Regions from separate parts of the Homo sapiens genome. Here region 2 is linked to region 1. The links come from fine-mapping of genetic effects on gene expression. Tissue or cell type: whole blood. Region 1 holds a variant in brackets; the other region holds the start of a gene. All regions are shown on one strand. Distances are between the middles of the regions.

Region 1 (5,149 bases):
ACTCTTTAAGACTCGGCTCAAATGTCCCCCTCCCTGGGTCATCTTCTGGATTCCTAGCCCACCCCACGCAGCGTTCTCCCATCTGCTTTGTGTTTTCATGGCACATGTCACCCTGTCCTCACTCATTACACTATGCTTATGCCTCCATCTCCTTCTGGAGACGGTCAGATCCACCCAAGTAGGATTGTCTTTTTATCCCTGGCACCTTACATGATGCCTGACACGTAAGTGTTTACTAAATATTCCGTGAATGATGGAATGAATAATAGAATATGCTAGATTCTCAGTCCTTGCTGGGCTTGTTATAGACCTCATTATTCATTCAGAGGCCCTCTTTCCTCTCCCTCCTGTGCCCTGGTGGCCATTTCCCTTCTCACTGGGCTCTGGAACTAGTTGAAAGTTTAATGGTGCCAAGCATCTGGTCAACAGGAAGACAGCAATCAAACTGGTGAAAACAGCAGCTTGATATGGCATGCAGGGAAGAACACTGGACTGGGGGCAGGAGGCCTGGGTTCTGGTCCTAGCTCTGTTACTAATTTATTTATCCATTCATTCACGCATTCAACAACATATAGCAACACTACGTTGCTGTATGTATACACACACACACACACACACACACACACACACACACACACGGGGGTGCGGGGCACTGTTCTGAGTCCTGCAGATATAGTGGTAAAGAAGAAAGACAATGTCTCAGCCCTTGTGGGACTTACCTCCCAGAGGCGAGATAGACAGACAGACAGGAAAAATACCTAATTAGAGTGGGTTGAGGAGGGAGAGTACCTATTTTTCCTGTCTATCTGTGTGACTCTCCTCTGGGAGGTTAGAAAAGAGAATAGGATGACGTGATAGGAAGTGAAGGGTGCCCACTTCGGTCTGGTGGTCAGGAAGAGTCTCTTTGAATACTGACATTTCAGCTGAGATGTGAGTGATGAATGGGAACCAGTCATTCAAACACCAAAGGAAGAGTGTTCCAGGAAGAACTGCCAGTGCAGGGGTCCTAAGGTGGGAACAGACATTAAGTTTTTAAGAAATGGAGAGACCAGTTTGGCTGGAGCAGAGGTGAGGAGGAAGTGAGTGTGGAGAGGTAGACAGAAACCAGAATCTATCTTGCTTTGAGGACCTTGAATTTTATTTCAAGTACAGTAGGAGTCATGGGAAGGTTTTAGGCAAGAGCATGACATGGTTATTTGGGCTTGACTATCAAGAATGGAGAATAAAATGGTTACAGATGGATCAGCTGAGGAGCCCCTGTGGTCATTTGGGAAATAGTTTGATGGTGGTTTGGGCTAGAGTGATTAGCATACAGATGGAGAGAAGTGGGCAAATTTGGAATGTGCTTTGGAGATAAAGTGGACAAGACTTGCTGATGGGCCGCAGGTGGAAGATGAGGAAAGCCGGGAATCGAGACTGGCTCTTAGATGTAAAGGTTGAAAAATCAGGTGAACGCACCTGCCAGCTGCTACAGATGGGAAGCCTGGAGGGTGAGTCTGGGAGAAGAACTCAAGTTCTTTATGGATAAGCTATGTTTGAGTTGCCCCATCAGACATCTAAGTGAAAATGTTAAGAAAGCAATTAGATATTCAAGTGAAGTTTGGGGGAAAATCAGGGCTGGAGATAGAGATTGGGAAGTCATCAGAACATACATGGTCTTCAAAGCCATGAGACTGGATGGGAACACTAAGGGAGGACATTTAGAAATGGAAAAAAAGGATGCCCAGGACAGATCCCTGGTACCCTCTAACCTTCAGAGACTGAGCAGAGAAGAAGGAGCCAAGAAAAGAGGCAGGGGGAGCAGGGAGGGCAGAAGTCCAGTTGGAGTGGGTTGAGGAGGGAAAGAGGAGGCAGCAATGCTCTTTACCTGTGAAGGAAAGTAGAGAAATAGTAGTTGAACAGAGACCTGCAGGTTAAGGGAGATGCTTAGAGCATGCACAGAGGGACGATCTAGTAGAGGAAAAATCTGCAGGAGAGAGGGGAGGGATCCAGAGTGCAGGTGGAGGTGCTGGCTTTGGAGAGAAAGGAAGGTTCTGTGTCTGTAGAAACAAGAGGAAGGCAGAGAGTAAACACCCAGATGAAGGAGCTGTGTAGATCAGGAAGAAGCTGAGACAGGATTTTCTCTTTGTGTGACTGTGGTCAAGTCATGTACTTTGCTGAGATGTGTGGGAGAAATAGGTCTGCTCTGATGATGGTGGAGGGTCTTTTCTGAACACATCCACTTGGCTAACAACACCTGCCTTAGCACCTGCTTTATTTGTAAGGGACACAGTGTGGTATCGGGGGAACCCGCCCCCAATATTTCAATGCAGGTTCTTTCTATTTTCCATAAGTGTCAGCCAGCTGAGAAATAAAGAGAAAGAGTACAAAGAGAGGAATTTTACAGCTGGGCTGCTGGGGGTGACATCACATATCAGTAGGAACGTGATGCCCACCCGAGCCTCAAACCAGCAAGTTTTTTATTAAGGGTTTCAAAAGGGGAGGGGATGTAAAGCAGGGAGTAGGTACAAAGATCACATGCTTCAAAAGGCAAAAAGCAGAACTACTAATAAGGGTCTAACAAAGATCACATGCCTCTGAGGGAACAGGACAAAGGGCAAAAGCAGAACCACAGATAAGGGTCTATGTTCAGCAGTGCACATATTGTCTTGATAAACATCTTAAACAACAGAAAACAGGGTTCAAGAGCAGAGAACCAGTCTGACCACAAATTTACCAAGGCAGAGCTTTTCCCCACCCTAATAAGCCTGAGGGTACTGCAGGAGACCAGGGCATATCTCAGTCCTTATCTCAACCGCATAAGACAGACATTCCCATAGCGGCTGTTTATAGATCTCCCCCCAGGAATGCATTCCTTTCCCAGGGTATTAATATTAATATTCCTTGCTAGGAAAAGAATTCAGCGATATCTTTCTTACTTGCACGTCCATTTATAGGCTCTCTGCAAGA[C/T]GAAAAATGTGGCTCTTTTTGCCCAACCCCGCAGGCAGTCAGACCTTATGGTTGTCTTCCCTTGTTCCCTAAAAATCACTGTTATTCTGTTCTTTTTCAAGGTGCACTGATTTCATATTTTTCAAACACACATGTTTTACAATCAATTTGTACAGTTAACACAATTATCACAGTGGTCCTGAGGTGACGTATATCCTCAGCTTATGAAGATAACAGGATTAAGAGATTAAAGTAAAGACAGGCATAAGAAATTAGAAAAGTATTATTTGGGAACTGATAAATGTCCATGAAATCTTCACAATTTATGTTCCTCTGCTGCAGCTCCAGCTGGTCCCTCCATTCAGGGTCCCTGACTTCCCACAACAGTGTGGAAGGTGCAACCCAGAGCTTATTAGAATAATGACTCCTAACCACAGAATGCAGAATGCAACACATCAGGTCCTGTGTAGGTGCTTTCTGTACCTTAGCTCTAATTGTTGCTACACCCTAAAAGGCAGGCATGACTACTATTCCCATTAGAGGGATAAAAACACAGAGAGGGCCAGGTGCAGTGGCTCACGCCTATAATCCCAGCACTTTGGGAGGCGGAGGCAGGTGGATCACTTGAGGTCAGGAGTTCCAGACCAGCCTGGCCAACATGATGAAACTCCGTCTCTACTAAAAATACAAAAATTAGCAGGGGGTGGTGGCGGGCGCCTGTAATCCCAGCTCCTCGGGAGGCTGAGGCAGGAGAATCACTTGAACCCGGGAGGCGGAGGTTGCAGTGAGCCGAGATGGTGCCACTGTACTCCAGCCTGAGTGACAGAGTGAGACTCCAGTTCAAAAAACAAACAAACAAACAGAGGGGAGGGGGAGATGGCCATGCAACTTTTCTGAAGCGATGAAGTGAGAATTTAAACCCTGACCAAACTCATGCTTTTATCCATTACATTCTCTTACCCCAGCAGGGAGAGAAAGGAGTGAAAGGGCTCAGCTGGGAGATGGGCCAGGGGTTAATGCTCTCAGGTTAAATACCTGCCAGTCTTCCCAGCAGAACAAGGGGGCACCAACTGCTCACTAATTCCTAACAAGAGTTGAGGGCCGAGACGTCGGTAGCAGGCTCAGAGGCCAGTGTTCCAGACTCCCTGACCCTGACCTCCTGAAAGCAGAGGAATTGACCCATCTACTCAGTCCACAATCCAACAGTGCTGCCCACCACGTTTAGGAGTTGGGCGTCTCAACCAGTCACCAGTGCCCTGGCCAAATCCTCCACCAATTTACTGTGACCCTAAGCTTTTCCAGATGTTTACCGAGAAATAATATTTGCCTGGTGTTGCAATCCTGGATAAAGCAAGGTCAGTTCTTATGAATACTCTGAGGGCCAGCAGGGTTTCCTCCACACCTTCCCACATGGATGAAATTCAGTTTTCAAAGCAGAGGCAGCAAGATTTCTGTTTTGTTTTTCTTAGTTTCCTGAAATATTAAATTAGTAAAAAACACAAAAGCACAGGTGCAGGAATAAGGAGATGGGGTTCCTGTCCAAGGCCTCTCACTTCTTCGCTGAGTGACCTTGGAGAGTTTCCTAAGTTTTCAGCAAGAGGTTTGGCTGTCAGGTGTTGATCATCTGAAATCCATGGATGTCCATAGGAAGTTGGGTAGAATTGTTTTTCAAGATAATTGAATTCCTTTGTGATCTCATGTCTTTTATTTTATGTATTTATGGATATTTTTTTGCCAAGCTGTCAAAGGGGCACACGGCACAGAAAGGGTTGAAATGCTGCCAGAAGATCTGTGGGGTCCCAGCTTGACTCAACATTCTGTCATTTCCATTAGTGTCCCTTCTGGGATTGGGATTCTCTTAACCAAGTCCATCTGGGTGTGGAGGAATTAAGGGAAGTTTCTCAATGCTGGGTCAGAGGGGTCAATAAACAAGAGGCAATGGAACCATCGCAAGTGGGCTGGGGCCCAGGCCCCTGGAGGGAGACACCCAGGCTCTTGGGCCTCACATGCTGTCATCATCTGGGTAGCAGGGCTGTCACATCCACACACTCATAAGTGGAGTTGGGGACCACTCCTGAGAGGCAGGAGCAGGCTGCAGCCTGAGATGTCTTGGAAGCCATGTGCTGCCTCGAGAGAGAAAGGAGAAGGAGGGAGGGAGAGGATGGGAGCAGGAGAGGAACTGTGACCTGGACCATCCTCCTGTCTCTCACGTCATTTCCAC
Region 2 (5,149 bases), 130 kb after region 1:
TTGGTTTCTGTGTTTGCTTTCTGTCTTAAAAAACAAACAAACAAAAACAACAAATGCTCTTTCACTTACTTTTCTTCCTCCCTATACCTCCTCCTGCCTTTGCCATCTGCGGGACCAAAAAAATCTAGAGAAGGCTTCCAATGACTCGAGCCCCTTTAAAGGATCCGGAACAAAGGGGCCACTCACCCCTTCCAGGGTGCTCTGTTTTCTTTGTGGAGTTTCAAGAGTGATGGGCGGATTCTTCTTAGGTCTAAAGCTCTGCTGTCTTCCTGTACGGCATGACCTGACCTCTTTGGCTTTGGGGGAACCAGAGATGACCCTGCACTGTGAGAGGATTTGACCTTGGCGTGTGTAATGGCAGACGAGAACTACAAAGAAGGGGTGGCTGAGCACAGTTTACAGGGAATGGTCTTGGCTGTTTTTTTGTTTTTTTTTTTTTCTCTTCTAGGAAGCTGTGATTTAAGGATCCTAATTCTAGTTCAGAGATGCATCCTAAAGGGTCTTCTCTATTGCTTTTTCTCCCAAAATGAATCTCAGTTTGGGTTGTCTATGTATTTGCATGAGGAACTGAACTGTTGTTGTCATAGGTAAATGAGAGATTGAGTTTTCTCAGCTCCAAAGAGAAAGGGCGTTTGCTCCTCCCAGCCGAGTACTCCATAGGGTTCATGGCGCCTCTACTTGCCAGAGTTTATGTAAAGTGGAAGTAATATGGTCTTTCTGCACATTTACATTAAAAAAAAAGGAGCCCTGAGGTTGACCTGCAAACTGTAGAGTTCCTGAGTCCTCTTTTTTCTCTAGTTTCTTCTCTGCCTGCTTTAAATTTGCTGTTATTTTTCTATTAAGATAAAAAACACTGTTTGGATCAGATAGTTTTTCTGTTTGTAAACTGGTGAATTTGTATTTATTTCATGGCTAAATTTCTTTTTTTCTTTTCTTTCTCTTTTTTTTTTTTCTTTTTTTTTTTTTGAGGCAGAGTTTCACTCTTGTTGCCCAGGCTGGAGTGCAATGGCGTGATCTTGGGTCACCACAGTCTCCTCTTCCCTGGTTCAAGTGATTCTCTTGCCTCAGCCTCCCGAGTAGCTGGGATTACAGGCATGCACCACCATGCCTGGCTAATTTTTTGTATTTTTAGTAGAGATGGGGTTTCTCCATGTTCGTCAGGCTGGTCTCCAACTCCTGACCTCAGGTGATCTGCCCGCCTCGGCCTCCCAAGGTGCTGGGATTACAGGCGTGAGTCACCGCGCCCAGCTTTCATGGCTAAATTTCTGAAGTAAAAGCTATAGGATCTTTGTGTGTGTGTATATATTTAAAAGGCCTTTATAATTTCTATAATTTTATGTTTAATTGGCAATTAAATCTGTTTTAATTTCCCTCCAGCACACCAGACTTTTTCTCTCCATACGTTATGATGTAAATTTTGCTATTCGATTTTCACCTCAGTTTCCTTAAAATGCAAATTCAAGGCTATTTAGCTGACAACCGCTTAGAGTAGTAAAACAGGTTATCAAGAATTCGAAGGTGTGGCTGGGCACGGTGGCTCACGTCTGTAATCCTAGCATTTGGGAGGCTGAGCCGCAAAGATCTCTTGAGGTCAGGAGTTCAAAACCATCTTGGCCAACATGTTGAAACCCCGTCTCTACTAAAAATACAAAAAAAATTAGCCAGATGTGGTGGCAGGTGCCTATAATCCCAGCTACTCAGGAAGCTGAGGCAGGAGAATCACTTGAAGCCAGGAGGCAGAGTTTGCAGTGAGTCGAGATCAAGCCATTGCACTCCAGCCTGGGCAACAGAGTGAGACTCTGTCTCAAAAAAAAAAAAAAAAAAAGTAAAAAAGAATTTGAAGGTGTAAGAAAAAAGCTCTTTATGAATCTATAAGATGAACTTCTTTCAGCATACCTAATACATCTGTGTATTTATGTGTTGTTGTGTACACAGTGTTTTGCTACTGAAAATATATAAAAGAGCTCTAATTAATTGGCTTAAGAAAATAAAAGCACTTGGCTGGGTGCAGTGGCTCATGCCTGTACTCCCAGCACTTTGGGAGGCTGAGGTAGGTAGATCACCTGAGGTCAGGAGTTTGAGACTAGCCTGGCCAACATGGTGAAACCCCATCTCTACTAAAAATACAAAAATTAGCCCGACGTGGTGGTGCGCGCCTATAATCCCAGCTACTCCAGAGGCTGAGGCAGGAGAATTGTTGGATCCCGGGAGGAAGAGGTTTCATTGAGCTGAGATCTCATTACTGTACACTCCAGCCTGGGTGACAGAGCAAGACTCCATCTCAAAAAAAAAAAAAGAAGCTAGTGATTCCATATCTTCAAATCAAATTTCAGTGGAGTGTTTACCGGGCAAGGAAGGCAGGGGGGTCAGCTTGCTGACAGCCTCAACCTGCCAGCCCTCAGCCTGCACATTTGTGATCACCTGGTCACACACCTGGGCAGGAGGCTGCCCCTCCTCCCTGGTTTGAGGAAGCAGGAAAAGGTACCCGCGAGAGACAGCCAGCAGTTCTGTGGAGCAGCGGTGGCCGGCTAGGATGGGCTGTCTCTGGGGTCTGGCTCTGCCCCTTTTCTTCTTCTGCTGGGAGGTTGGGGTCTCTGGGAGCTCTGCAGGTAAGGAGGCCTAGAAGGGCCTGGTGGGCCTCTCCCCTAGTAGGGCTCTGGGAGTGAATTTCAGTATGAGCCACCCTTCATGGGCAAGGGCAGGCTCTCTCGGGTTGATTATAATGAACCACAGTGCTACTTGTGAAGTGCTATTATTGTTGATAAAGAGTGTGCAAATGACAGTGTGAGTGTAAGCGTGCATGGCGCTGCAGTACACACTAATCAACCATGACGATGTGTGTGAGTGTAAGCGTGCCTGGCGCTGCAGTACACGCTAATCAACCATGACGCTGCCATCGTAAGGGATGGCTGAGAGTTTGTCTTTATGAACGTGGGACAGTAAGTGGGGCACGGAGCGGGGGTGCAGGGAGGTGCCAGCTGGTGATCATTGTGCAGAAAGCTGAAGAATGTGGCTTAACAAGATTCTGACTCCTCCCAGTTTATTACCTAGCATGGATTTCCTTCAAAATACAGATTTCGTGTGAAAAGTCCAACTGCCACAAACTGCTTGGGAAGGGTGGATGCTGACAGGCAGGGCTTTTGTGAAAGACGGGAATGAACCCTGACCTGTCGCTAATAGGAGTTGTGCCAAACTCATCACATACATTAAAAAATAGAAAAGGATTTATTTTTTTTTTAGTTCTATGCTCCCTCTAAACCTCGAGTGGAGAGGCCGGGCGTGGTGGCTCACACCTGTAATCCCAGCATTTTGGGAGGCTGAGGTGGGTGGATCACCTGAGGTCAGGAGTTCGAGACCAGCCTGACCAACATGGAGAAACCCCGTCTCTACTAAAAATACAAAATTAGCCGGGGGTGGTAGCAGGTGCCTGTAATCCCAGCTACTCGGGAGGCTGAGGCAGGAGAATTGCTTGAACCTGGGAGGTGGAGTTTGCAGTGAGCTGAGATCGCACCCTTGCGCTCTGGCCTGGGCAACAAAAGTGAAACTATGTTTCAAAAAAAAAAAAGCTGCAGTGGAGAGTCTGGAGTTCCCATCCCCACCACTCACAGCCTCCCCCATCATCAGCGTCCCCCACCAGAGTGGCACATTTGATAGGACTGAGGAACCTACTTTGATGCATCATTATCATACATTGTATTTTTAATCCTCACAACGGCCCTGCAAGATCGGCCCTGTTTTTACCACCCCCCACCTCCACTGCTTTAAGGGTGAGGCCACTGTGCTTCTGGGCATCCAGTAACAACTCCTCGGAGCCAGAATCTGACTCCTCACAGGCCTGAGCACTGCACCCCGTGGCCTCCTGCCTGTGCTCACCGTGGCCTGGTCTGCGCTGCACGTGTCCCGTTAGCTCCACCTTACAGGTGCGGAAATGCAGGCTTGGAGCTGAGAGACTTGGCCAGGGTCACAGGGCAGAGAGCAGATTCTCCAACTCAGGGTCCCAAGTCCACACGCTTTCCTCTCCACCAGATTTGAAGATTGTACCAGGAGAGCCGCAGTGTTCCAGAGCTACTGAGGGGCTGGGCTGGGATTTGCTGTATTCGAGAAGACCCCCTTGGACCCGAGAGGCTGTGGGCTTGGGGAGCATGAGGAGGTTTCACAGCAGAAAGGACACCCCGGGGCTCCTGGATAAGCCAGAAAATGTGCCAGGGGAAGTCGGGCTCCAAGGGCACCACTCTGGGCTTCCAGCTGTGTGGGCTGGACCAAGAAGGCTCAAAGAAATGATCTCAGGCTTGAAGTGGGGAGAAGAAACTGTATTATGAAGGCAGACGAACAGTTCCTGCAAAAGTGAGATTTGTGTGTGCAGCTGGGCCGCACTGGACCAGGGATGAGAGTGGGTGCCCGGGACTCGCCTATACTGCCTGGGGGTGCAGCCCGCACTCCTCACTATAGTCAGATCAACTATGCGTGCTTTCCAGTGGCCTGGGAGAGGACTCCATAGGGAGGGATGCTTACCTTGTGGGCTTTGGAATATAAGCCCTTTCACCTTCTCCGCTGGTCCTCATCACGTTGGCAAGGCAGGTATTGTGACCCTGTTTTCTCAGGTGAGGACATGGAGGCTGGGAGGGGTCTAGAGACTGGCCTGGCTAGTAGGAGGCTGAGTCAGGATTTGAACCAGCAGATCATCTGACCCCGGAGCCAGTCGTGGGCGGCACAGCGGGAGCTGCAACCGAGGCTCTTGACTCCTGCGTCGTCATTCCCTGAGGTCCACAGGACAACCAGTTGGGGACCTGGGGCCCCATCCTGATGCCCTGGGGAGAGGTGCTAGGCCCCTTTTGGGTCTATGGGCTACTTTTGGGCCAGTGGAGCTGGGTAAAGACCATCTCAAACCCTGTGCCAGGGGAGGTCAGACTCCAAGAGCGCCACCTTTGGGCTTCCAGCTGTGTAGGCTGGACCAAGAAGGCTCAGAGAATTAGGGGGTTCGTATTTGATCCTTTTCCTTCCAAGACTGGGATTACCAGATAAAACACAGGGCATCCAGTTACATTTGAATTTCAGGTAACAATTTTTTTTAAGTGTAAGTATGTAGCCAATATTGCATGAGAAATACTCATGCTAAAAAGTTATTCGTCGTTTATCTGAAATGCAAGTT

Evidence for each region. PIP is the estimated chance that this variant, and not a neighbour inherited with it, causes the effect.
Region 2: MUC20 starts here. The variant in region 1 is fine-mapped to the expression of MUC20 in whole blood (TOPMed, PIP above 0.99).

Annotation. Positions count from the first base shown.
Region 1 is chr3:195,587,197-195,592,345 of GRCh38, forward strand. No RefSeq gene overlaps it. Among named protein-coding and RNA genes, the nearest start is that of APOD, 5.8 kb to the left of the region's middle. The variant C/T (reference allele first, on the strand shown) is at 2,950.
Region 2 is chr3:195,718,475-195,723,623 of GRCh38, forward strand. MUC20 (mucin 20, cell surface associated) reads left to right here and starts at 2,504. Exons shown (of 4, transcript NM_001282506.2): 1 at 2,504-2,609. The coding sequence starts at 2,534.